2 separate regions of the Homo sapiens genome follow, and region 2 is linked to region 1. The links come from fine-mapping of genetic effects on gene expression. A gene starts in region 1. The other region holds a variant in brackets. All regions are shown on one strand. Distances are between the middles of the regions.

The links. PIP is the estimated chance that this variant, and not a neighbour inherited with it, causes the effect.
Region 2: its variant is the best candidate, but not a certain one, in a credible set for the expression of DOK4 in thyroid (GTEx, PIP 0.67).

What each region holds. Positions count from the first base shown.
Region 1 is chr16:57,484,945-57,487,689 of GRCh38, reverse strand. DOK4 (docking protein 4) reads left to right here and starts at 1,197. Exons shown (of 9, transcript NM_018110.5): 1 at 1,197-1,385. RefSeq lists a silencer at 1,017-1,316 and an enhancer at 1,148-1,944.
Region 2 is chr16:57,438,345-57,441,367 of GRCh38, reverse strand. CIAPIN1 (cytokine induced apoptosis inhibitor 1) reads left to right here. Exons shown (of 9, transcript NM_020313.4): 2 at 385-596; 3 at 2,034-2,186. The coding sequence starts at 440. Among named protein-coding and RNA genes, the nearest start is that of CIAPIN1, 7.5 kb to the left of the region's middle. The variant G/A (reference allele first, on the strand shown) is at 1,225.

The DNA.
Region 1 (2,745 bases):
GACCATCAGGGAAATTTTCAGACATCCAGAGGCAGCCTCCTTTTAAGCTCCCTGGGCAAGGCTGAGGCCCAGGCGTCTCCGGGGCAGGGGCATGCATTCCATGGGTGGGTGTTGGGATCCTTGGTCCCTCACTGCTTTAGGCCTATTCCTCTGAGACACCTGGACAGTAGCTGGATGTGGAGGTATTTTCATTTCTCAGGATTTTGGCTGTTCAGGTGGCCTATTGTTTTGTTTTGTATATATGGTCTAAAGCAGTGGTTCTCACACATTCGTGTGCATCAGAATCACCTGGCCTGTTAAAACACACATTTCTGCTGGAAACCCCCAAAAATTCTGATTTCATAGGTCTGAGTAGGGCAGGGAATTTGCATTTCTAACAAGTTTCAAGGTGATGGGAAGCTTCTGGTCCAGGGACTACACTTTGAGAAGCCCTGGTGTAAAAAGGTACAGACGTGAAAACCAGAGGGGGGACAGCTCCTCCCCAGAGGAGGCACTGGGCAACTTCTCTTGTCCCTGCCTGGCACAGCTGAGGCCTGTGACTGGGGATTCCGACAGATCAGTGAGTCAACCACTGCACAGGCCCGAAGGGCAGAGGTGAGGGGGTTGGGGGCTGGGTGGGGGCAGCAATGAAGGGGAATGAAGTTTGAGCTTGAGGGCAAAGTCTCAGGGGGACCTAGAATGGGAGAACTGGATGTTTTGAGGGTGGAGAGGAGACCAGGGAAGACAGAGGTGCTGGTGCGGCTACTTGAGGAGGGGTAGCAGAGGAGGTCACTGTGGGGCTGGGAGAGCTGGGCTGTGAGGGCCCAGAGAGTCATGATGGGGTTAGGGGAGCAATGGGTGTGTATGTGATTCCTGAAGAAGTGAAGGAATTGAGATATGGGGGCTGGGAGCTGATGTGGCGTATGGGTGTGTATGTGATTCCTGAAGAAGTGAAGGGGTTGAGATGTGGGGGCTGGGAGCTGATGTGGAGTTCAGCTTTCAGGGGCTGAGAGGCCATGTGGGCTTTGGGGCCCAGGGAGGGGCGGTGGGAATGAGCTGGGGGTACCGGGGGCGACCTGAAGCGGGTGCGGGGGTGCCAGGGCGCCAGGGCAGAATCGCGCGTCCCGCGGCTCGGAGGAATACGGCGGGGGCCGGCCGCCAGGGCGGGGCAGGGGGCGGGGCGCAGCGGCGAGACCTGGCGGAGGGGGGAGCGGAGCGGAGTCCCAGCCGGAGCCCCAGCCGGAGCCCGATCCCTAGCCCTGCGGCCGCGCCTCCCTCGCCGTCCCCGCCTGGAGCCCGGCGCCGCCGCCGCCCTGCCGCCCCCGCCAGCCGCGCCGTGACGCGGGCATGAGCCTGCTCCGCGGCGCCGCTGAGCAGGCGCTCCTGGCCCGGGCCTCGGCGCCCAGGTAAATTGGGGGGCGTGAGGCAGGGAGGGGGACATAGGCCGCCCAGAGCCTGCAAGAGTCTCGGCGACTCCCACCCCTGAGGACCCTCAGTCACTTCCTGAACCTGAGGACGCTCCGTCCCATGGGACCTTCCTACTCTCGGGTGGGGAGCTTAGAGACCCGCCCCCCAAAAGCCAGTGCCTGGGCCCTGAAACTCCCTGCGCTCTCTCCACCCGCAGCTTTCCTCTCCGGGGGAGCCCAGGTCGCGAGCTGACCTCACCCGCACCCACACAAACCTCATCCGAGCAACCCAGGCCCTGCGCTCCCGGGCCTGCCCCCCCGGAAGGGGCATAACCCAGCCCCTGGCAGCTCCCAACCTTCTCTCTGCCTTCCTGCTCCTCCCCGGGGCCTCCTGTTCGCTCACCTCCTCCAAATTCCAAGAGATGATTTTCTGTACCCCAGCTGGCCCCCACTGCCGACCCCCTCCTGCCTATGGGGTTTCTCCCCACAGCCCAAACTCATGGCCAGCTGCCTCCTGTCCTTGAACCTTTCTCCATTGGCCCCCAAGGTCCTGTCCACCTTCTCCCCCAGGGCCCGCAAGGCCCTAGATCCAGTTACATGCTTTCTATTACTGAAAAGGGGCATGAGCCGAGGCTGGGCACCTGGGTGATGTGGCAGAGCAGGGGCTCTGTGCAGCCTGCCTGCCCCAAGCCATGGGGACACGTCAGTTGCTGGGGCGCTTCCGCTTGGATGGAGGGTGTGGGTTGGAGGGGTCTGATGGCCAGGGCAGCGAGGGGCCTGGCAGTATCTCTAGGAGACTCCACTTGGGCAGTGTGAGGTGGGCTTGCTTAGGGCAGGTTCTTTCCTGGACCCTTTCAGAGGGATGTGGCGCTGGTACAGGCTCTTCCTGCCCCCACCCCCAACTCTGATCCCAGGAGCTGTGCCTCCTCTCCCCAGTTGCTTGCCTTGCTGTGCTGGTACTGGTTACTCCCAGCACTTCCCTCCTGGGCAGGGCAGCAGGGCTGGGCATGACCTCACCCCACAACCCTGGCCAAGGTGGGGCCGCCCAACTAGGCCTGGCCTCGATGTCAGCAGCATGCTCTTCCCTGAGGCAGCTCTGAACCAAACTGCGGGTCTTGGGCACAGCTGGTTCTCCAGTAACAACAGCCTGCTGGCCATGCCAGTCAGCGCTGAGACCCAGGAGCTGGGAGCCCACTGTGGCTCACGCACCTCTGGAAGCTGAGCCAGGTCCAGCCAGATGGAGGCTGGTGGTGGTGGAAGAAAGGATGGGGAGGAGGACAAGTCCTGGAGAGAATTACGTGTTCAGCCCCCAAATATTGAGCATCTCCTTCCCACCGGGCACCATTCTGGGAGCTGGGAT
Region 2 (3,023 bases), 46 kb after region 1:
ATTTCTGTCAATTTATTTGCCTTCCTTGCCAAGTCACACTTTGCCTAATTGATGTCCTGTGTGTTTTCCATTCCGTTCATGCTGAATTATCTTAGGTCAAAGAGGAAATCATCTTTCTGCCTCCAACCTTCTTACTTGCCTCTAATCCCCTTTCTTGACTCTTCCAAGTCAGGATTCTCACCAAGGAAGCTATCTGCCTTCTTTGGGAATGTTGGGCTTATGAAGACTTGAGATAATGGGGTTCATGTATTCAGACTCTTTAGCATATACAGTAGAGTTTCTAATGTTGTCAGCATTCCCTAGTGGGCGGTTACAAGTTAGGTTGGGATTCTAATCATATTTTATGATATCTCACAGATTAAATTGCACTTTGTCTCTGCCCAGTCTTGATTCCCTTTTGGCCAGCAGTTTTTAGGTCTGTCAGTACTGCACTGCAAGAATGGCAGATTTTGGGATCTCTGCTGGCCAGTTTGTGGCAGTGGTCTGGGATAAGTCATCCCCAGTGGAGGCTCTGAAAGGTCTGGTGGATAAGCTTCAAGCGTTAACCGGCAATGAGGGCCGCGTGTCTGTGGAAAACATCAAGCAGCTGTTGCAATGTAAGTACCCACCCACGTTGTCTTTATGAGGCTGGAGGGGTTTCCATGGGAGTGTTGCATTTCTGTGGTTCCTTGATATCTGAGTTTTCATTTAGGGTGGCATGTGATAGTGGTGGCTGGTCACCCTGTTGTTTTTCAGTTGAGATATATCGGAGGAACCACCCCCAATAATTCAACGTAGGTTCTTTTCTATTTTCCCTAAGTGTCGGCTGGTCTGAGAAATAAAGGGAAAGAGTACAAAAGAGAGAAATTTTAAAGCTGGGTGTCCGGGGGAGACATCACATGTCGGCGGGTTCCGTGATGCCCCTCAAGCCGCAAAACCAGCAAGTTTTTATTAGTGATTTTCAAAGGGGAGGGAGTGTACGAATAGGGTGTGGGTCACAGAGATCACATGCTTCACAAGGCAATAAAATAAGGCAAACGGGGGCAGAGCGAGATCACAGGACTGGGGCGAAATTAAAATTGCTAATAAAGTTTCGGGCACGCATTGTCATAGATAACATCTTATCAGGAGACAGGGTTTGAAAGCAGACAGCTGGTCTGACTAAAATTTACTGGGTGGGAATTTCCTCGTCCTAACAGGCCTGGGAGTGCTACGGGAGACCAGGGCTTATTTCATCCCTTATCT[G/A]CAACCATATAAGACAGACATCCCAGAGTGGCCATTTTAGAGACCTCCCCCTAGGAACGCATTCTCTTTCTCAGGGCTGTTCCTTGCTGAGAAAAAGAATTCAGTGATATTTCTCCTATTCACTTTTGTAAGAAGAGAAATATGGCTCTGTTCCGCCTGGCTCTCAGGCAGTCAGACCTGATGGTTATCTCCCTTGTTCCCTGAACATCGCTGTTATCCTGTTCTTTTTTCAAGGTGCGCAGATGTCGTATTGTTTAAATGCACATGCTTTATGAACAATTTGTGCAGTTAACGCAATCATCACAGGGTTCTGAGGCAACATACATCCTCAGCTTATGAAGATGACGGGATTAAGAGATTAAAGTAAAGACAGGCATAGGAAATCACAAGAGTATTGACTGAGGAAGTGATAAATGTCCATGAAATCTTCACAATTTATATTCAGAGATTGCAGTAAAGACAGGCGTAAGAAATTATAAAAGTATTAATTTGGGGAACTAATAAATGTTCATGAAATCTTCACAATTTGTGTACTTTTGCCATGGCTTCAGCCGGTCCCTCCGTTTGGGGTCCCTCACTTCCTGCAGCAGAGCTTAGGAGTGTAGTTGATGATTTCCATAAGTATGTTCTTTCTTGGTAGCTATTCCATGTTTTTTTAAAACACTTACTATTCATCCAGCTTCTTGGATGGATATCGAGTGGTGTCCATTCTCTCAGGGTGAGGTCTGTAGCTTTTGTTGGGGGTTGGAAGGGACCAGGAGATTATCCCAGGCTCAGGAGATTGCTAATTAGAGTCCTCTTCTTTTCAGCTGCCCACAAAGAATCCAGCTTTGACATTATTTTGTCAGGTTTAGTCCCAGGAAGCACCACTCTGCACAGTGCTGAGATTTTGGCTGAAATCGCCCGGATCCTTCGGCCTGGTGGATGTCTTTTTCTGAAGGAGCCAGTAGAGACAGCTGTAGGTAAGGAGATCTTCACTTGGAAAACATGTTTGACAGGGTTGAGTCTTAGAGTATGTGTGCTGCATCTCCGTGAGCAGGAGGTATCATTGGGAGATCAGTATTCCTGTAGCAAAACCTTTTCCTTGGGGATAAATTATTGTTAAAATCTGAAGCAACATATCTGGAGAAATTGTAATCTTTGGCTGACTCATTATGTAATAAAATAGAAGGAAACTGCCATCTAAAAATGGGTCCTTTTGCAGGTGAATAAACTTTGATATGTTCATAATATGGAAAGTGATGCAGCAATAAAAATGAACTAGCTAACTATATGTACATCAGCTTGGATGGATATCAAGGGAAGTAGCTGAGTGAAAAAAGCCAATCTCAAAAGGCTCTGTACTGTACAAATCCATTCATATGCTCGAAATAACAAAATTGTGGCGGTGGAGATCAGAGTTTGCCAGAGGTTAGAAGTGGGAGGAAAGGGTTGGTGGAGCTATAAAGGGGTAGTATGAGGGTTCCTGTGGTGATAGAACAATTCTGTGTTCTGAATGTCGTGGTGGTTACACAAATCTACACATATAATAAAATTACATAGAACTATATAGCCCCCTTCTGCCAAACGAGTACATATAAAAGAAATGAAATCTGAAAAAGTTATGTGGACCATCAATATCAATTTCCCGGTCTTCATATCATGCTATAATTGGGTAAGATGTTAACTGTGGGGAGGGACGAAGTGAAGACCTCCTTAATATACAGAACTTTTTTTTGTTTTTTCCAACTTCCTGTGAATCTATAGTTATTTCAAAATTAAAAGTTTAAAAATAGTGGCCGAACCCTGGGAATGATGTG